Linked DNA regions of Homo sapiens. The protein of the gene in region 1 purifies or fractionates together with the protein of each later gene. This does not show direct contact. Each region holds a gene or a part of one and is shown on either strand. Other genes may lie near its edges. The genes, in order: DDR2 and CDH2.

Region 1 (11,192 bases):
CAGACATAGTGTTAAGATGCTTTTTCCTTCAAGGATATTAGATTGTTTATAAAAGAGTCTCCACTATGCCTCATCGGCCTAGCCCTTCAATTTATGAATTAAGGCTTAATCTTTATAGATATTTACTGACATTGGAGTGTCTTTTTCTGTGATTTTACAGCTTTTGAGACTAAACCACAAAAGCGTATTTGCCAGATTGATGTTGGCAGCTTTGCCAGAGTTTTTCCCTCTGATTTGTCTAATCAAGGGGGTCAAGAATTAGAATATGTATTTCCTTTCTAAGAGACATTTCTTCCAGGTATCCTAATTTTTCTTCTTCTTAATATTATTATATAAATAAGGAGGTATCTGGCCTCTGCATGTGCTTTCGGAGTTCGGCTGTCAGGCTCCGGTGAAAACTAATATTATTATGCATTGGATTTAAAGCTCAAGAGACCCCAGGAGTAAAAACCATGGTTCATAGCTATAATTAGCTATAATAAGTGTACCAGTTACTATGCCAGGAGAATCCCTGAGGATGGGTGGGAATCTATTTGTCCCCCAGTTAACACTTACAGTGTAAGTGGCACTGACTTTGAGCATCTTGATTTCTACTCTCAGTATTCAGATGAAACAATCAATCAACTTACTCTTAGATTAAATCATTAGCACAGAAGGCATTTAAACACCAAACCTGTTTTCCTAAAAATATGCTCTATTTTCTTATCAGTACATCTTAATAAGCAAACCATCTTGAAATTTTTTTCCCTTAAAAATCAAATCTGAAAGGATGGGTTCTTCTGATTTATTTTTCTTTTCTTTCTTTTTTTTTTTTTTTAAACAGGGTCTCACTCTGTCACCCAGGCTGGAGTGCAGTGGTGCAATCTCGACCCACTGCAAGCTCTGCCTCCAGGGCTCAGGTGATCCTCCCACCTCAGCCTCCCAAGTAGCTGGGACTGCAAGCACGTGCCACCACACCCAGCTAATTTTTGTGTTTTTTATAGAGACAGGATTTCGCCATGTTGCCTAGGCTAGTCTCAAACTCTTGAATACAAGCAATCCTCCTGCCTTGGCCTCCCAAAGTGTGGTTTATCTTTAAATTAGTCTCTTCCTCTCTTTTATGTTATTTTACACCTGGACTTTTCTTCCAGGCCCAGTACAAGTCTCATTCCTTTGATGCTGTCTATGACAAACCCACGCTAGTGCCTCTCTCCTCCTGACCATTTATTGTTCATATTGCTTTGGACATTTCTTTTTTTTTTTTTTTTTTTAAAGCATTCTGTATCTTTCATCTTCCCATTTAAATTTAATGGTATGAACAATGTTCTAAACACCTTTTAACTTTTCAAGATTTGGCACAGTTTCTGGCTGTAGTAAGTTAAATCACTATTTGCTGCAGTTACTGTTCAATCAAAAGTAGTGTTTAAAGTTTAAAAGGAATCCCTAAAGGTTGAAACAAATGGAATACAATGAACCTAACTGTATATCACATTGGTGACATAACTACATACAGAAAAGAATTATCCCACTGTTACCCTAACTGTATACCACACTGGTGATATAACTATATACAGAAAAGAATTATCCCACTGTTACCCAACTGACCTTAGAACATAGTGCTTTGACTGCACATTCTTAGTAGGATATATTCTCAGGACAAAGAAAAGAGAATTGCTAAGAAATCTTAATGTTCAATAGTTACGTTGCTAGTAATAATATTGGTATTGCTTTTTGAATAATAGGATGAAGAAAATGCTGTTAACATTGTTAGGAAACATGATATTTAGCATAAATAATAGAGATGAACGTATAAAATCAACTTTAAATAAAAACCTTATCTTTAATTTGAATTGGAAGTAACAATGTAAACTCACAATCTTTCTTTTTAAATATACATATTTCATTGCTTTCTTCCACCGAAAAATCCAAGAAACAATGACAACCTATTAGTAATGAGCATCCCTACTACCCAGTTTGTGTTTTCTAAATACCATTTCCTACTAAAAGGAATCAAGATTTCTTGAAATGGTTGATTCCACGTCGGGTGCTGTACATGTTCAAAATGAGCTTGAAATACCTTGTTCTTTCGGAAAACAAGAAAGTTATCAAAGGCTTCTAGGGTCAGATCAAAAGAGCAAAGAGCCCCCTTAAAAATGCAAACTCTAGGCTGGGTGCAGTGGCTCACATCTGTAATCCCAGCACTTTGGGAGGCCTAGGCGGCTGGATCGCCTGAGGTTGGGAGTTCGAGACCAGCCTGGCCAGCATGGTGAAACCCCGTCTTTACTAAAAATGCAAAAAAAAAAAAAAAAAAAAAAAAAAAAAAAAAAGCCGGGCGTGGTAGCAGGCACCTGTAATCCCAGCTATTTGGGAAGCTGAGGCAGGAGAATCACTTGAACCTGGGAGGTGGAGGTTGCAATGACTCAAGATAGTACTCCAGCCTGGGCAACAGAGCAAGATACCGTCTCAAAAAAAAAAAAATGCAAACTCTAGTCAAAGACAGCACAACTTGAGTATTAAAAAGAATAATGGCCAGACACGGTGGCTCATGCCTGTAATCCCAGCACTTTGGGAGGCCAAGGCAGGCGGATCACTTGAGGTCAGGAGTTCGAGACCAGCCTGGCCAACATGGCGAAACCCTATCTCTACTAAACATAGAAAAACTAGCCAGGCGCAGTGGCAGGCACCTGTAATCCCAGCTACTTGGGAGGCTGAGGCAGAAGAATCACTCGATCCCGGGAGGCGGGGGTTGCAGTGAGCCAAGATCACACCACTGCATTCCAGCCTGGGTGACAGAGCGAGACTCTGTCTAAAAATAAACATACTACTACTAATAATAATAACTGCAATCGATTAAGCATTAAATTGATAAAAAGCAATGAGTTTATAATGATACCAAAAAAATAAGGGTAAAAACCAAAATTAATTAGACATTATTGAGGGTTGCTACGGTATCAAGTCATTACTCTGAAAATTAACAATTAAAGGGGAAGATAAGTCACGTATGCTGCTCTTTCAATGTGATTTCTGAGTAAACTGGTGCATGATGAAGAATAGTTACTCTATTCGGAAGAAATTCAGCTAAGAAATGCAGAAAAAATAAAAGAATTAGAAAATCGTCATTTAGCAACCCTAGTGAAATAAATAATTCAGACAGTGGTTATTGATGGAGGATAAAACTTAGGGAAAAAGTTCATGAGGAACCAGAAATCAATCTTAGTATCACAAAAAGTGAGAGGATCTAGCATTACATCCCCATGATGAAGTTCAGCATAAAATATACAGCATTACTGAGATATATAGAATGCTTATAAAGAATTCTTGACAAAAATAAATATTGAACTGGAATCAAATTAACCTGTAGATGTAAGCACCAGTCATTAGGAATGACAGAGAACAGAAGCTCAAGTAAAATGACACCACAGAAAGCCATCAGCCAAGCCAGAATCCATTTAAAAAGAAATAAAAATGGAAGGAATTTTTTAGATTAAAAGAGACACAGAGCAAATAGAATAAAGAAACTCACCAACAGATCCTTATTTTGATCCTTATTTGATAAAGTCAACTGAATTAAGACATTGATGGACAGTTAGTCATACTTGAATATGGACAGGATATTGGGTGGTATTAAGAAATTATTTAATAATAAAGGTTGTTAGATGTTATCATGGCATTATACCTATGAAAATGATGCTATTTTCTTAGATGCAGTCCAATTATTTGCTAATGAAATCAAGTAGTATCTCATATTTGCTTTAAAATGCTACAGCCAAAAGGAAGGAATGGGTGAAACAAATATGGCAAAATATCAATGATTAGTAAAGCTGAGTGATGAGTGGTTTATTGTTCTCTTTACTTTTGTGTATATTTAGAAATTTTCATTTAAATATCTCAGTAATGCTTAGGTGTGCTTTTCCTTAACAGCGCACTCGTTAACTACCTTAAATTATATAAAATTTTTAACACACTGTACTCTCATTTAAAAACATTCTTTCTAAGAAGAGTTACGTGCATATTTTGTTCACTTCCATTCTCATCCCATCCCCTCCACAGTTAAAACTAGTCACACAAAGGATTCACCGTATCCGTCAATGAGAAGCTGCCTGTACAATCCCACTCCTCTCAGAGACCTGCTAATGAGAAGTTCTGGGCATGTGCATTCCTCCTTCATCACCTTGCTCCCACTTCCCAAAGAGGACCTGAGCTCCCTACCTGATTGGAAGGTGATCTCACTGAACATCATCCAGGTATCTGCAAAATGGTATTGACACTTGATGGCACTGGCCATTCGGTGGTGGAGAGGCACCGTGACAAACCGAGCACTGGGGTTGACGTCATCCAGGACAAGGGGGAAGGAAATGGCATTAGGTTCCCACTCACTGGCTTCAGAGCGGAAGTAGCACTGTACCTCCTTAAAGATCTTCACACCTTTAGCAAACATGTTGTTGCAGTGGACCTGGTAGAGAAAGAGGCATGTGAGTGATAGGTTGGCCCTGCTAAGGTGCATGGAGACACAGTGCCAGCCAACTCAGTAGTTGCCGTCTACCCTGATTCGAGCTATTCTGAACTGAGGTAAGAGGAAGACTGCCATCCTGCTTCCTCCTAGGTACATTTCAGAGCCAGTCTTCTTCTTTTCACAGGGCTAGGTGAGAAACCCAAAATAGTGTACAATCTAAAACAATTTCATTTTTTTTTTTAGAAATCTCATTTCTAAATGAGAATACACATATTCTCACATATGTGTGTATGTATCTATGTGTATAGATACACACACGAATCAGGGTAGACGGCAACTGCGGCTGAGAGGATTATAGACTCGAGAGAGTTCAAGGCAAGGAAGGGCTGAGAAGATGCTGGTGCAGTCCTCATTTAACAGATGAGAAAACTGCAGTCCAGCAACATGAAGTGAGGTGGCCAAGGGCAGACAGTGCATACAGGTAACCAGGGTTGCAGCCCAGGTTTTATAAGGCCTGACCAACTATCACTGCCACTGTGAGGTTCCTAGAAGGAAAAATTCAGAAGACTGCAGAACACCAACTACATATATATATCTAGTTGTATATGTATATACATATATCTAGTTGTATATGTATATACATATATCTAGTTGTATATGTATATACATATATCTAGTTGTATATGTATATACATATATATAGTTGTATATGTATATACATATATAGTTGTATATGTATATATATAGTTGTATATGTATATATGGTTATATATATGTAGTTGTGTATATATATATATCATTGTGTATATATATATAGTTGTGTGTGTATACACACACACACACACACACACAACTGTGCTGGTAAAAAGATAATCTTTGACCCTAAAAATTTATTTTTTTCACCTGATATTAAAAGAAATTAGAGCATTTTTATGCGTCTTAAAAATCTGTGGGCCCTGGACACTGTGTTATTGGCTTAATGGATATGTCACCTTTAGTGTCAAAACAACAAAAAAAAGAGAGCTCACTGACCTATTCTAACTCCCTTACACACAAATGGAGAATCACGCCCTTAGAGATGAAGTGACTTGTGAAATGCATTTAGCTAGTTAGTAACAGAATATGTCATTGAACTGGCATCAGCCTAGACTTTTTTCTAGCATGCCTTTTCTCTACCACACTATGATTTGTGCCTCCTTAAAGAAGTTCCACCACACCCGACCCCACTGACCTTCATGGTAGTGAAATTCCTGATGCGGTCAAATTCAAACATGATCTCAATGTAGCCATTGGTGGCACTCTCGTTCCGCCAGCCCACATAGTCATAGCCGGGCCACACGTGGTATTCATGGGTCTGGGTGAAATCGTCCAGGCCAGACACACCATCGGTCAATTGGCCTAGCCCTTCTGTCATGCTGCTCAGGCCAGGAGAAGAGGAGGAAAAGGAGAGAGAAATCTGAGTTAACCACACATTCGTGGAAGAGCTTTTACCCGGCATCTTCACTCCAGATTTTGTATGAGCTTATTATCTTGGAATTGAAGGATTGTAAATAATCAGATTTGCATTATAGTATTGACTCGTTTATCTTGCATCAATGGAGAACTAAGAATTTCATATTAGTAATTTTTATAAAATATTTGATGCTTACTCCTTTAGTAGTAAAACTTTTAAACAATGTCTTATTTAATATGAAAAGCTTTCTATAATTTATTGCACCTTGCCTATTCTTATATACTGAATATGTCTTCACATAATGACTTAATATTATCAAATGCATTTGATGAACTAATTCATAGAGTAAATGAGGAAATGGATAAATGCATAGAATGAATGCTACCATACATAGTAGCACTTGCCCCACTATCATATAAATGTTTCCAGAGCTTGGTGCTGACTCTCCTTTAACTACATATTGTCATTGTTCAGTGAATCAATTTCAGAGAATCCAGTCACACTCTCTTCTATTCCACATATCCAACAACCCAGTTTGATATTAAACTAAGGGGGAAAATACAAGCTCTAAATTTAAATAATAATTTCTATTTAATTCTAATTAAATTTGTAGGATACTAGACCCAGGAAGTAAGATGCAAGGATTTCATGAGAATCCCAGGTATTGGATTTAGTTTTGTGTTCTAGCTTAGCAGGCTTTTTTGACTTCTGAGTAAGAGGCTCTGTTTTAAAGGCTGAGTTTTCCAGAAGCCTGACTGCTGGATGGAATATAACTGCATGTATGCTTATTTGACTACTTAGAGAACACGAAGAGGCTCCTTCCTTCTTTTTATGGAGGGACAGAGCAAAAACCATCATGTGGAACTTCTCTTTCCTCAAGCTCTGCATCTCAAGCTCTGGCAGATATGACACAAATTTCCCAAATGACGAGATTGGGATACTCACCCTCAAGCAATAATTGGTGTGACCCTTGAGGTTTAGAGCTAGATCAATAATATGTAAAATTTGTGAATCGCAAAAAATAAAAAAATACTAAGGGTGATTATGCCAGCCTTTTAAAATATATTTAATCATTGAAAATGTTTGGTAAATTATAAAATTTGACTGGCCTTATCCACAGTGACCAGAGCCTGGATCTCCCTTCCAAGGTTTTGCCATCTTTTTCTTCTCTCTACAGATCAGAAAGCTAGGAGAACGTAAGTTTACTTGCAATAAATATATTTCCCATTATCCTCAGAAAAATAAATCCCAGGAAAGTTTTATGAAAAGCAACAGAAATTAAAAGGAATGCCTGTTCAGTTCCCCCTTGGTCAAAATTAAATCAAGTGAAGAAGGGATAAGAAAATAAATGTTCAATATTTATATACTTTAGAGTTATTAAAATCACCAGTAAGCATATATTATTCTTGAAATTGTTTTAAATTTAAAAAGTAACTTTTGCTAATATGACTATTTCCTGAGACTCTGATGTCATCTCTCAGTGGCTGAGAGGATCTCTTCACTCAGCCACCTCCACCAGATATTTCATTACTTCAATTATTAAATGAAAGCCAATGATGTCTACATTTTTGTAATTTTTTTTATCTTTCCCCTGGAGTTAAGAGCCATAATTCCGGCTACCTTCCTTATTTCTCTACTGAATGTCTTCTCAGTCTCACAGACCTACACTCCAAACTAAATCCATCATCATCCCCTACTGAACTAAGTCTTTCTCCTTGGTTTCCCTTTTCCATAAATTATACTTCTCTTCATAGTAATGGAAAATGCTTGGCGCAAGGTAAGCACTCAAAATATATTTGTCGAATAAATAAATGTCATCCCCATTGTTTCAGTCACTTAGACTGTCAAACTTCATCTGACCCTTTTTCTCACCCTACTGTTTTGCCTCATACATCCAATCAGATTTCAAACATCCTAAATGAATATCTTTTCCTCATTCCCCACAGTCACGGTTATGGCCTTGGTCATTAATTCTTTTTACTTGGCAGAACTAAGAGTTTTAAAATGTTCCTCATAGCCTCCTCATTCCATTCCAATCTAACCTTTGCATGCTGCTTGATTAATCTGTCTAAAGCACAGCTCCAATCATGTCCTTCCTCAGCTTTAAAAATCTTCAATGACTCATTACATTAATGATAATGTTTATGAAGAATAAGAACAGCAATTTCTCCTCTTCCTCCTCCTCCACTTCTTGCTCCTTTTGGCTTTGACTTCAGGTTCCTTCAAAATATGGCATAATCTGCTTTGTTTTGCTTCTCCTGCACTACTTTGCCACATAAATATGGCCCGTGGTTAAATAAACTGTTGATTTCTCCCAGACAGTCCCCTAAACTTTATAACCATGATTCTTTTTTCCTCATGCTATTATTCCCTCTGCCTAAAATTCCATTTCAAGATTCTGCACCTGTGAAAGTACTACCCATTCTTTGGGACCCAGTTCAGATTTCATCTGTTCTACCATATCTTTACTGGTCCTTCAGTCAGAAAAATGATAATCAGATAACAACTTATATGTGCATAGCAATTTATCTTACGAAATGCTTTTCACACACATTTTAATCCCTTAAGCCTTGTAGCAAACAGAAGTAACTTTTATTATATGAAATCCAGATGTTTTCATCCCCATTTTTGTGCTTTCCTACTATAGTTTACTTTTTCCTTTGAACCCCAGAGCAGTCATAGGCTATCTCTTGCTCATATACTTGAATCATAGTAACTTATATTCTGTTTTAGCCCCTACTCCAAATTGTGAGCACTTTAAAGGTAGGATCAATGACTCCATTACCTTTGAATACCTAACATGCCTGGCCAAATTCCTTGTATATAGTAACAGTTGATTAACAAAGGCTTATTAAATTAAACTGAATTCGGTTGATCTCTGATTTCCTCTGTGCCTTGAATACATGCCTGTTGGGGTGTGACTGAGCGAAATTATGCCAAGACCGTTTAAGCAAAAAGGAAAGAACAGTGATTAAGAAGATGGAAAGGAAGTGACTAGGAGTAGAAGAGTGGATGAATCAGGTCTTCACCCAGGGGATGGCAGCTAGAGGGCAATAGTTCATTCTCCACACCTAAGCCAGTAGAAGGCTGTAATTCCACACTCCCTTCCTGAGACTCACTAGTATCTCCTTCTCTCGAGCCCTGTCAACCTCCATCATCTGGTCTGGTCTTCACGATGGACTGAATTCTCTCCCAGGCTCACTTTGCAGATGCAGACCAAGCTTAGAGAGAAAAGTGTTAGTGTGGGCTAGAAGAATGGCAAGGCTTAAAGGCTTGAAGTGAAACAGTATAGGTGGGAGCATCCTGTACCCAACCCTAAGTTCCTACTATATCTGGTCACACTTCTTTGCCATGGCACTCCTTTGATCCACTTCAGGCTTATCCATTGTTCCATTCTGTTCTTCTCAACTCCAGCTTCTACTATAGCCAGGTCAGTCTTGCCTTCAGCCCTGCTTCCTTTCTTCTGCTACCTTCTACCTACCTTCCTCTGCTACAATTCTCATCTTAACCTAGAACTTTCCTTGTCTATTGTAAGTCTTACTAGTCCCCTTTTTACAAATTTCAAAGCATTTATATGTATAAGGTCTATTCTTTCTGACTTCTTGACTTGCCCAGAGTATTATACTTATTACTTCAATTCTCTGGCCCTTTGTTTCCATAAGTAGGTCAATATTTGTGTCAGACTACATGTCCTGTTTTGAGGGTCAAAAATATGGCTATTATACTTAGAGCCATATCACAAACTTTAGCCATTACTTTGTGTAATTGATTGTTTTCTGGGTAATTAACTTGTCTTCCCAAACCGGGCTTTAAGTTCCCTGGAAATAAAGGTCATGTGTATTCCTTCATCTAAATTATTTCCAAATGCCTTGTACAAGAACTAAATAAATACTGATTGGTTGATTGATTATTGATCCCAAGACATGATAAAATATTATTCTTTCTTAGTGGCCAATTTCCCATTCTAATAAAGTTTCCCAGGATTTACCTGTATCCAACAGCTCCATCATAGACAGAATCATTCAGATAAATGATGGAACCTCCAGGGAGTACAAACTGCTGCCCAGCTGGAGCATTGTAAGACACCAAGCCATCTGCAAAGGAAACACAGCCAAGTGAGTGCCTACTGCTCAGGCCCATTACCTCAGGGAACTATGTGAGTTTCAAGGGTATAAGCTTGCACAGCGTGTCCAGCAGGACTCCATCTGGACACCGAGGGAAGACTTTGGAGGAGTGCCCCTCCATGGCAGTCAACGTAATGACTCTGAATGCATGACTCAGTGTGGGGCCCTAAGCCCTGGGTTAATGAGCAATGCTTCTGTCTCTATTCTTCCCAAGAGGGCATCACCATTCCAGGAGTAACTGATCCCATCCCTTTCTGATTTGATTGCCTTCATTTCCCAGAAGTTGGAGTTTTTAATAAAGTCTATAGGCTTCCTGGGCTAGTGACCTACCTAGCCAGACACAGCCGTAAAGCTCCACTCTCATACACACATTCATGGAGTGGTCGGTGACTGGAATGAACCGGACAAATCTGGCTACAATGGGCGGCTCCAAGTCCTTTAGGAAAATGTCATAGGGGTTACTATTTCCATCCAGCACCTGAGGAGAGAGAAGAGAATGAGTGAAGAGGTGGTATTAAATCATGCTCACTTTTCTTCACCCCACCACGTTTTTGATGGACTCTCTCTTCTTAATTCGAGGAGCAGAATGCATCTACTCTGCTTTCCCCACAGCCTTGATATTCCTTCCCTGCCTCCCTCACCCTGGGTCACACATTTACAAGGGCATGCCTGGTCTGTGGACACACATATCCACACAGAAAACCTGTACCCTTCTTCTCCTAGCCTAAGTCAAAATATGGTCTTGGACATCCAGGATCTGGATGTCTCTTCTTCCTACCTGTTTCCCATGACGGTTCCGCCAAGAGATCCAGCGAGTGCCATCCCGACTGTAATTGATCTTGTACATGGGGGCAAACTCGATGCCATGACCTCCTGCATGGCGCCCCTGGGTCCCCACCAGAGTGATAAAATGGAGGGTGTGCAAGTCAATCTGCAGAAACTCCTTCAGGTCATCAGGTTCCACTGGAATCTCAGGGCACCAGGCTCCATCCCCTTCTTCTGAGTCCAGCCTTGAGAGGTGAGGGTTGGGGAGAGAGGGAGCAACCATGAAACCACAGAGCTGTTTACTGGTTCACAGGCAAGCAGCTGCCCTGTACTGAGGGGAGAGAGCAGGCTGTCCTTATAAACATTTTGGGTTCTTGCCACAGTTTTCACTGCCACCACAGTACCCATTTGTGGTCAG
Region 2 (11,192 bases), on another chromosome or scaffold:
TCATGATATATCACATTCTGAAATTTTGATCACCATTGATAGCTATTAAGAATGATGCCTCACAGCTGCTATTTTCATGTCTACAGCTATTAGAATATTGGCAGATAGTGAACAAACCAGAAAAGCCATAGAAGAAAAATGTAATGAGTAGGCAAGAAGAAAGCCTGCATTTTAGAAAGCTCTTGCATTTGCATGGCTGTTTTTAAATGCTATTTCCGAGACGTTAAGAAATGTATTCTTCTGATCTTATGGTCAAAAAGGAACCAAACAAAACAGTTGCATGCTAGAAGCCAAGGGGATGTTCTTCAAGAATAATAAATGCGTAGCTATAATGGAAAAGCCTGTTAAAGTGAACATCCCTTCCTTTTAGCCACCCAGTAAAGAGATTTACTTCTTTGCCTCCCACTTAAGCACTCTTGATTTGTAAGTGAACCTAAATATTGACCTTACATAGAAAGATGTGCTAAAGTGCCAGTTGCCAATAATTATGCAGATGCGGGAGTAGAATAGAATGGGAATGGAAACTCTCAGAAGGAACATAGTGATCAAAAGCACCAACTTGAGTCTGCTGTCTGTGTTAGAGTCCCAGCTCTGCTCCTGATATCTGTGTGATCATGGCCAACTATTTAACCACTGTAAATTCTAGGTTTCTTATGCAGAAAGGGGCTGATAACAGTATGTTAGTCATAGTGTTCTGAGAGATAAATGAGCTTCATACACATTAAAGGACTTTGAACTGTGCATATACCCCTTAGCATAAATGTTACATCAGGGGAAGGTTTCGTGTGGCTAGTGAAATCACTCTAAATATTGCAGTCTTAACTTTCTGGCTTTTTTTCTGTCTTGCTTAAAATACTAGAGAAAGGAATGTTGAATTGGGGATTTAGAGAGAAAAAAAGATGTGTTTGAAGATTTTTAAAAGGTGGTCTAGGGTACGAAACTGGTGCAGTTTCTGCTGATAATGAAGCTTTCTTATGAGCGTCACCTCTCGATCATTCTTAGGCTACCAATTATGAGCCTAAGAGATCTTAATGCTCTTGTTTTTCCTGTTATTACTGCACAGTAATGCTTATTTGCACATCCATTCGCAGGTGAACAAGGAAAATTAAGAGTGAATGTCCAGTCTAGTCATTTGACTCCTGGTAATATTTCTAGTGACAGCAAGATTCAGTGAACTTTGGAAGTTAGTATTTACATGAAGGGTTATTTGTGCATTGCATTTATCTAGAGTGTTTTTCTTAAATTTGGGGGTTTTACAGACCAATAAAATATCCAGAAATATTCCAGAAGACAGCAGAGTTTTAGTTTGCTAAGAGGAAAAGAAAAATATCTTCCACCTACCAACAGTATTATTTTTAAAAGGTGTGTGTGCGATTATGTATACATGTTTGTACTGCAAAATGTGTACTTCAAATTATGAAAGGTACTTTTAAATCAAATAAGTTTAGCTGTATTTAAAAATTACATTTTCTGATTTTTGGTTTGTTTTCTTCAATTCATCATAGACTGGTGAAAGCTTTCCTGGGTGAGGAGTGATCTTTGTACTAATGTTTGAGAGTATACATTTAGACCATCATGTTCTCACTTGACTTTATATTATTTAGTATTTTTAGTCAACAATGCTATTCTTAAGAATAATCAAGTTTTTAGATGTACCTAAATAAATAAATCTGTGCAGTAATCATGTGCACTGTTTTGTGAACATAAATCTTTTAAGTACTCAAGATTTATAATTAGGTTAAATTGGGATAAATATTTTGATAAGTGACCATGCTAATGCATGTTTTCCAGAAACTTGAGAGGAACCTTGTTATGTAGTGAATGAAGAAATTAATTTTTTGGAAATGGAGTTGATAGAGGAATAAACTACAGAATGCAAGCATTCTTATTTCCTGCAAAAATATGGCTTCCCTTTTATTTTCCAGCCAATCGACTTTGAAACAAATAGGATGTTTGTCCTTACTGTTGCTGCAGAAAATCAAGTGCCATTAGCCAAGGGAATTCAGCACCCCCCTCAGTCAACTGCAACCGTGTCTGTTACAGTTATTGACGTAAATGAAAACCCTTATTTTGCCCCCAATCCTAAGATCATTCGCCAAGAAGAAGGGCTTCATGCCGGTACCATGTTGACAACATTCACTGCTCAGGACCCAGATCGATATATGCAGCAAAATATTAGGTATGAAATGCTGTTTGTAGTGTTTTTGTAGCTTACTTATGTTCTATGCTGTGCATAAAATTTATCTAATTCACTATTTGAGTAGAAATTTTCATTGCAATCAAAACTACTTATTAAAAGATAATTTAAAATTCTTTGAATTTTCTTCTCAGTAAGTCAATGACTATATTAGATATAAATAGATATCTGTATCCATATTAAAATGGATTTACTATTTGAAGAAAAAGCTGTTCTTGTTTCTCTGTATCTGCCATTTTTACTTAAAAAATACTTTAAAATTATTTAGCCTGTGCCTTTATGCCAAACATCACAAAAAGGTTCCGCAGGGAACTTTCAGAGGCTTATAACATTTATCTCTCCTCCATGCATCATGAAGGAAAGAAAGCTTATGCCAAAACCAGGATCTAAGAGTTAATTATTTTCATTCCTTACCTGTACAGTAGTTATTGGACTTATGAAACCTATCTGTAAAGATTTCCAAACTCAGCAAAATGTAATTTATCCTTTCTGATGAGGGAGTGGATGGTTGCCAGAGCACACCCCATGCGACTGTTCTCCAAAGCTGGTGATGATCATTTTTAAAATGAACTTATATTTCATTAAACTTCTTACAGAACTGCTGCTAAAAGATAACTTTCTATTGTTATCTTTTATTAAATGTTAAATGTTCTCCATTTCTCTATTCACTGAAATCAAGATAACTATTAATAAATAGCCAGTTAATAGATGTATTGAAATCCTACAACTTGTACCTTTCCAAACATAGCATACCTTTTCCAATCCAACTGGTTATCTAATCTTTAAAAGTTAATCCCCACTCCAAATTTTAAAAAGGAATTTAAGCTGATAAATCTGCCAATTCAGACTCAAGACTGTAGGACTTTCTTTGCAAAGGTATAGATCTGAGGCTTGGCCCAGTGTGAAAGATTCAAGTAGGAATGGGATTATGGTGGTCTCTCCAGTGTGGCTTCATGTTGGCCATGATAAAGTGTTAAAATGTTTTAGGAGTGTTCTGTGATGCAGTATTCAATTTCTATTATAATTTCTCTTAACTCCTGTACATTGAGACTACTGCTTATCTAGAAACTATATTCAAGCTATTTTACCTGAACCATTGATATCTGTTGAAGTGGACAAGAACCTAAAATGATAACTTTCCAATCTGCTTTAGCCCACATTAGGGAGACTGTGCACCTAGTCTTGTCCCTCAGACACCTGTAGAATGTTTCCTACATGCCTGACCAAACACAACCTTTATGTGCCTCCCAATACCACTGTCACAAAAATACTTTTTCCTGTTAAAGCTGTATGTCCAGCCATCATCTACAGAAATGCAAGTTAATGAGCCAGTTGCATTTGGAACTAAACCTGTAAAATATGTTTTTTTAAAGTTTCATAAAAAGAAATTAAACTTCACTTTCATTTTGTAGATACACTAAATTATCTGATCCTGCCAATTGGCTAAAAATAGATCCTGTGAATGGACAAATAACTACAATTGCTGTTTTGGACCGAGAATCACCAAATGTGAAAAACAATATATATAATGCTACTTTCCTTGCTTCTGACAATGGTATGTTCGCTGTTTTTTCTTGTATGTTGATGAAAGACAGTAGATCCTCATCATGCATGCTCAGGAATTAAAGTTTTCTACAAAACTCAATTGCCTGGAAAACTGACTTTTATAATTCCGAGGTCCAGCTTTTATTTATCATTTCAGACAGGTGTTCTGGAACATCCTTCACTGTCTTTGCAATGACTGTTCTCGATGTCCATCCATCGTTCATGTAGACATACCTTTGTTATCTTATTGTCCTGTCACATGTTGATGCCTTAAGTCCATCCTCAGTGGCCCTAGACACTGGGTTTTTTCAGTGGCTCTTTTTATATGTCTTCTAGTCACTCTGTTGCCTTTCATATGTGCATCTCTATCAGTCTTCCTTTTTATAATTCTCTGCCTCTGTCTGCCATGGGCTAGGAAACTTAATTTTGTGCATAAATTGAGATAAGTGAGTAGTGAGCTTCAGGGTATGGGTTTTAGAATACATATGTAGCACCTTTTTTTCCTTTCTGAGTCTCTGCTGGTTTCTCATTGGTTAAGATTAATAGATAAGGACTTTTTTCAGATATGTAATATAAAGGGGACTTTTGTAAACCTGATGAGGGGCTTATTTTGCTTCGTTAGCTCTCAGTACGATGTGTGTTTCAGACTTCAAGCTCTGGAGTTCTACAGGACCCCCAGGTGCAGACTCCGGCTTTCCCACTTTGAATCTGTGGGATTGCCATGAGGTTTTAAATATATCTGTTTCCTTTTTTTGTTAAATAGATACGTATCAGCACCTAACTCAGTGTTTTAACTAAAATGTAATGACTTCTACATATATATGAAGCATTTGAAACAGTGGCTGACACGAACTAACCACTCAACTAAGTATTCCTATTGCGTATTAATAGTTTCAAAACTGAACCACAACTATATTTTAAAATATTTTCAGTATTAAACTATGAATATGAATGTTGGTACTTAATAAAAAATAGCAGGCTTCAATTTGGTGGTTGAAGTTGGTGTTTGCAATTTTCAAATTGTAAAATATTTTGCATTACTAAAATAAGACATATCAATACTTTAAGAATAATGTCAGTGAACCTTTCTAAATCTGTATACTAAGATTTAATGAGATTACTATCTGTAGAAAATCTATGTAGTGACCAACCAAAGAAATATTTCTTATCCTTTTTAATATGGGACCTCTTGTTTAAATATTTAGTGTTGGAACTTTGTAGGAATAGCTTTTGCCATTGTACATCAAAGCATGTCATTAGTACCTGTTTTATGCTTTTTTGCCATAAACCGTGGCTTTCTTCTACAGTGGTACTGAAAGTAATGCATCTTGAATCATTATGTTAAGATCTAAAGAGCCATAAAATTATATGTATGTATGTATGTATGTATATTGGTTGTGAGTTACAACCAGATTTCTCATTCACCAGGAAGGATTGTTTTCTAATTGAAAGGGCTTTTGATAAGAGAGAGAAGTGACCTGTTATAATGTATGTAGCTGTGATGCTTTGCAATTGCACTTTCCTTTAAGCCACAAGGCTAGACTTGGAGCCCCAGCTCTGTTCGTTAATGATTAGTCAAGCTCTTATACTCTGTATGCCTTAGTTTCATTATTGATAAATTGTTTCACTACCTACATATTCTATATAGTTGTTATAAAAGTATAGTAATATTAAATGTGATAGTAAATTTCGAAGTCCCTCAAACTGTTGAGTATCATAGTGGTCATGGTGGTGTTGGAATATTGTAACAGCCACTATACCCTTCCAGTTCAACTCTCCCTGCTCTTAGAACCATCATATTCCTCATAGAAGTTGGTAAACATTCCTCCTTATTCCCTCCCCAGGATTGTGTATGTATGTGCACCTTCCTAGTTGCATGACCTTTGGCAGGTCGCTTAAGTCTCTGGTCTTCAGTGTACAGCATTATTTATAAAATATTCATAAACATATTATATATTTGTGTGTGTGTGAATATTTACAATGTAGCAGAAGCAAATCACCAGATTAAATTATCACACAAAGTGGTGGAGACAGCATTTTATTATAGTGGAATGAGAATGGGTTTGAGGTCAGGCCGACCAATATTTAGTAGCAACTCCACCACTTACAAGAGTGTGTGGCCATGAGCAGTTTACAGACTCAGGTTCATCTGTGTAAACCTGTGTCATAGGATTACAATCAAAGAGTGTACATAGAGCAGCCTAATATGATCTCAAGCAGGTAGTTGGTTGGTTAGTAAATATCATTTCTCTTCTGCATGATGTTCCTTCCTGAGTTGAGGTCTGTGGTTCTGTATCACTTGTCTGTAGACTGTTGCGTTAAGTCAAAGCTGTGTTAGAGCGTTAAAAGCATTCTTATGTTCTTTCATGCATATGTCTTGGTTCTCCATAAAAAGAATAGTGTCAACAGGATCACGAGCCCTGTGTTTGCATCTCCAACACTCCTCACAGTGCCTGGAGGAGCATGGTCTACGCAAGCCCTGAATAATGGGCAGGAGGGGCAGGGAGGGTACGGGATTCCATCACAGGGGCATTCTTCGTCACCTTGCTCAGCTCCTGCAGAGCAGCAGTGGCAGCTCAGGGTCATTCTAGCAGGGAAGCAAGAAGGGGCTTTGTTCTGGAAACGGTCTGCCCAGATGCCATAGCAACTATGTTTTTCCAAGGTTACACAGTTAAAAGGGCCAGAAGGTTAGAAGCTTTGAGAATTTCACCATAATTGAGGCTCATTGGAGAGAACTGTTCAGCATCATTTGTGATTTTTCTCTCTTTTCAGGAATTCCTCCTATGAGTGGAACAGGAACGCTGCAGATCTATTTACTTGATATTAATGACAATGCCCCTCAAGTGTTACCTCAAGAGGCAGAGACTTGCGAAACTCCAGACCCCAATTCAATTAATATTACAGCACTTGATTATGACATTGATCCAAATGCTGGACCATTTGCTTTTGATCTTCCTTTATCTCCAGTGACTATTAAGAGAAATTGGACCATCACTCGGCTTAATGGTAAGAACAGGTTAATTATTTGAATATATGTGCAGTTGAGAGATTTTGAAGCCTGGCATGAAAAGTTAATTTTATGTGCTTCATAATCTTCTCATTATACATATTTTAAAAGCTACTTAAAGTTTAAGTAAGATATTAAAGGCCTTTACGGCCAAAAAAGTATTTAGAATGCAGCATAGTTGTAATCCGCTTTATGTGTACTATTAGGTAGTAAATACATCCTGAACAATGCTATGTGTTTTTTTATCGCTTTAAGTATTACCTATCAAACTATGTTTTTCCTTTTTCATATAGGTGATTTTGCTCAGCTTAATTTAAAGATAAAATTTCTTGAAGCTGGTATCTATGAAGTTCCCATCATAATCACAGATTCGGGTAATCCTCCCAAATCAAATATTTCCATCCTGCGTGTGAAGGTTTGCCAGTGTGACTCCAACGGGGACTGCACAGATGTGGACAGGATTGTGGGTGCGGGGCTTGGCACCGGTGCCATCATTGCCATCCTGCTCTGCATCATCATCCTGCTTAGTGAGTACTTTTATTGTCTTTTAGATTTCAGTTCTCTTGGCTTCTAGGATGTTCAGCAAAGTCATGTGTTGCTATTGCCTGGCAAAGTAGTCTAACAACCCTTTGACCTTTCAGCATTTCCTCGCCAATCATATATGGGTCGACCAAGTCCACTTTAGAATGAAAAAACCCCAGAGCATTGTTTCAAGCACTTGATGTTTGCAACAAGCTGCCTCAGCATGCCTCTTCCTTGCCCTCTTACCCTTTCTCATGCTTATTGCTTAGGGAGCTGTAGTAAACGCTTTTCATAGAAAAACATTAAACAATCCCAAGTTTGAGCACTTTTCTTATGATTTGAGTATGAATTTATGGCACGTAGTTGATGATTTAGGAAAATAAGTATATTGCTTTCCTTCACCTTCCTTCATATAAAGCACAGTCAGCAACGTGCTCCAGTCATGCGAGGATCAAGGTATTTGTTTCTGAAGGGCTGTGTAGAAGAGTGAGAGATTGTACTTCACATACAGGACATTTGATAATAGAAATGATTACACAGCTCAGTAGATTGTCTGTCTTTAGAGTAAGTGTAGATTAAGGAATTGCTTCTTTTTAAGGTACTTTGCAATCTTTGGTTCAATGGAATGCAAAAAATTAACCACTGGAAAGTACTTTAGGAACCACTTCTAAGCATGCAGGTTAAAAGAATAAATTGCCTGGGCCCTGTGTTTTATTGTGAATAGCAGCAGGACTTAGTTTATTGTGCGATCATGCTATGCACCAATCACTTTCTTGAAAATGTTGGCCATTTCTTTTATGTTTTCTCCATTTACAAGTGTTCTGGTAATTTAGAATTCTGTCCCTTTATTCTAAGCAATTACTATAGAAGTCTAAGCATTTTTTACTTCCTGTGTGGAGACTACTTTGGCTATAATTTGAAACCTGCATGCTATACTAATAATCCACTTGCTAGATTTAGCCCTGGAACAATAGCAAATGAGATCATGTTATCTGGCTTTAAAAGGAGGATATTTACTTTTATGGCCAATAATAAAAATGTGCTCCAATAGGAGTCATTAAATCTTTTGCTTCAGGATGTAAACTGATACCCCCAGATTTTAGATAGAATTTGTTCCTAGATGTGCACCTAGGGATATGTTTCCATTTCAACTGAAATGTGGCATAGATGCCAATGTTATCAAGAAAGACTTAGGCATGATGGATTATGGCAATGAAGAAGTAACTGACATTTTGAAGGAAACTGAATTGGTGCTGATTTTAACATCAACTCACTGGAAAATTTATGGTTCTAGACCTGGCGCAAAGTGTAAAACATGAAAGTCTAATATTATTTCAGTGTTCAAAGGAATCCCCTAGCTTTCTTAGCTGAAACATGCACCGGCCTCTGGGAGTCAAAACCTCAAGATCTGATTCCTGACTTAGTTCCAATTTACTACCCAGGTCATCTGGGCAAGCTTTGTCCTCCTGGATAAGTGTTTTCTTCTGTGAATTTCGGAGTGTAATGATGACTGACCAACCGAAATAACACAGCAAGTAACACCTTACTGCTGTTTTGTGTCTCTAGAATTTACAAGGCCCTATGAAGGGCAACTATCCTCTAGCAAGCCAAAGGGAAGATAGAAAAAGTTACTGTCCCCATATATGGATGGTAAAACTGAGAACAAGGATGATCACCTCTCAAGTGAGTTTGCAGAGGGCACCAGGGATGGGAGCCCAGGCCTTCATACTCTAAACCCAGTGCTTTAGCTTGCTTTGTCTTGTCTCTCTTAATGTGAGGCCAGAAATAGATAGTAGAGTGAAAGACGCATTTCAGGCCTTCAGTTCATATAAGTATAAATTATTAGTACTGAATACTGTGACTAAATAGGCCAGGCTTTAAAAATGACAATATTATGTATTTTTACTATTTTTCTACCTAGTCCTTGTGCTGATGTTTGTGGTATGGATGAAACGCCGGGATAAAGAACGCCAGGCCAAACAACTTTTAATTGATCCAGAAGATGATGTAAGAGATAATATTTTAAAATATGATGAAGAAGGTGGAGGAGAAGAAGACCAGGTGAGCAGTGCTTTAAATCTTTAAAAATAAATTTTATGATCGTATAAATTTAATAGTGGGAAGTGTTAATACATCAGTAAGAAAATGGTATCAGGTTTCCCTCCTGTTATCAGTCATTTGGTAAATTGTTTCCTATGTGTGTTGAATATTTCTCAAATTTTTTTTCAAAGTACCAAATGTCATTGTATTTATTTTGTAAAAAAAAAAAAAACACCTTGTTTCAAAGGCTTTAAACCCAATTCTAGTTATATCTGTGTAATGATAAATATACTTTACAGTTTCTCTTCACTGGATATCCAAAATATATTAAAAGCATCTTCTACTTTGGGATCTGGATAATTATATGTATGGTAGAAAAACCACTAAGACTATTTATTCCCCAAGTATTTACCAAGGAAATCCAATATTTCAGGCACTATTTTAATCCCTGAAGATACCTCCATGGGCAGAGTTAACAAATATCTATCCTTAAGAGTCTTACATTCTTGTGAAATATTTGAAGTTAGAGTTAACATCTAGTTCATCTTTGTATTTATAGTGTCTGTCATAGTTCCTGGCTTGAGGTGGTTATTCAATAGATGTCAGAATCTCCTTCTGGCCATTAACTAATGTGAACCTATATCACTATGTGCGTATGGGATTGCATACCTCTTCAAGGATGAGAATGACCATAAATGGAAAACAAAAATCTCCATCTGCTCTGAAGCAACATTTTCAATGTTATCATAGCAAACATCTGTAAGCTCTATACTACATGTCAGGCATTCTGTTAAGTACATTAGGTGCTGCTCTCTCTTAAATCCTTGAAACTTGTGATACTAGTACTGTGAACATCTCCACTTTTGTGGTATAAAACCAAGTTAAGGATGGTTAGATTCTACAAAATCATGCACTTAGGAAGTAATAGATGCAGAGTTTGCATTCAGGTTTCTCTGAATTCACAGGCTAAACTATTCTGATACAGTTTCTCTTGAAATTATATGGGCGATATTAATGTAATCCATGAGAAATCACTATGACAGGTAATTCTTAGATACATTTGATAGTTATCTGATTTCTACTGGCTAATGCAAATGTCGGGGATAACAGTCTGAAAGAGAACCCAGGATTCTTTGGTTTTGCATCAGTATCAGTAAGTTAAAATGTACTCTCTTAAGTATATATGCAGATATTATTGATAAGCCTGCTAATTGAATAAAAGCAAATTTTCATGAACATATTTTTCCCTTGCTTCACTCCTTTGAGGAAATGATATATCACTTTTCATTTTACAAAGCACATTTACATCCATTATTGTATAAACTTTGTGGCAGCCCCTTAGAGTTTTCCATTTTACATTTGAAAAAAGTTGCATGATTTACTTTCAGAGTTTGTAACCCACAGAGCCAGGACTCAAGGCCTCATGTTCTGATTCCAGGTTCCATGCTTGGTTTACAATACCCCAGCTCTCTCATTTAGAAGAGATGCATATTTAAAGTACGTTGAAAACTTGACTCATGTGTAAAGCTGTTTTGAATACTGCCTAATTAAAGTGGCTCTATAAATATACCTTAGGGTGTTTTGCTTATAAATGTCTCTGAATATTAAAATTCATGTTTGGCTTAATTCTTTAATTAATCTATCCTTTCACTTTCCTAGGCTATTTTCAAGATCAACAAACATATTGATCACATTCTCTCATAAATCGTCTACTTCCAGTATTTTATTTTTTGTGTAATTTTGCATACTTTACAAAGGCATAAACCTAAAACCCAGCTCAATTAGGCTTCAGTAAAAGTAGTAATAACTGTAAGACCACCGGTAGTAACTGGATGCTGCCCAAAATTGGAGGCTCAGAGGCAAGAACCAAGAAAATTCTCG

Evidence for each region.
Region 2: the proteins of DDR2 (region 1) and CDH2 purify together in Homo sapiens (affinity purification with western blotting; 2 studies listed by BioGRID and IntAct, with this or other methods). This does not show direct contact.

Annotation. Positions count from the first base shown.
Region 1 is NC_000001.11:162,754,451-162,765,642, reverse strand, and holds part of DDR2 (discoidin domain-containing receptor 2 precursor), read right to left. Parts: intron 11,020-11,192; coding exon 10,788-11,019; intron 10,488-10,787; coding exon 10,340-10,487; intron 9,980-10,339; coding exon 9,874-9,979; intron 5,848-9,873; coding exon 5,664-5,847; intron 4,433-5,663; coding exon 4,189-4,432; intron 1-4,188. UniProt on the Homo sapiens protein: Tyrosine kinase involved in the regulation of tissues remodeling. It functions as a cell surface receptor for fibrillar collagen and regulates cell differentiation, remodeling of the extracellular matrix, cell migration and cell proliferation.
Region 2 is NC_000018.10:27,981,084-27,992,275, reverse strand, and holds part of CDH2 (cadherin-2 isoform 1 preproprotein), read left to right. Parts: intron 1-1,925; coding exon 1,926-2,179; intron 2,180-3,609; coding exon 3,610-3,752; intron 3,753-6,514; coding exon 6,515-6,748; intron 6,749-7,042; coding exon 7,043-7,276; intron 7,277-9,192; coding exon 9,193-9,332; intron 9,333-11,192. UniProt on the Homo sapiens protein: Calcium-dependent cell adhesion protein; preferentially mediates homotypic cell-cell adhesion by dimerization with a CDH2 chain from another cell. Cadherins may thus contribute to the sorting of heterogeneous cell types.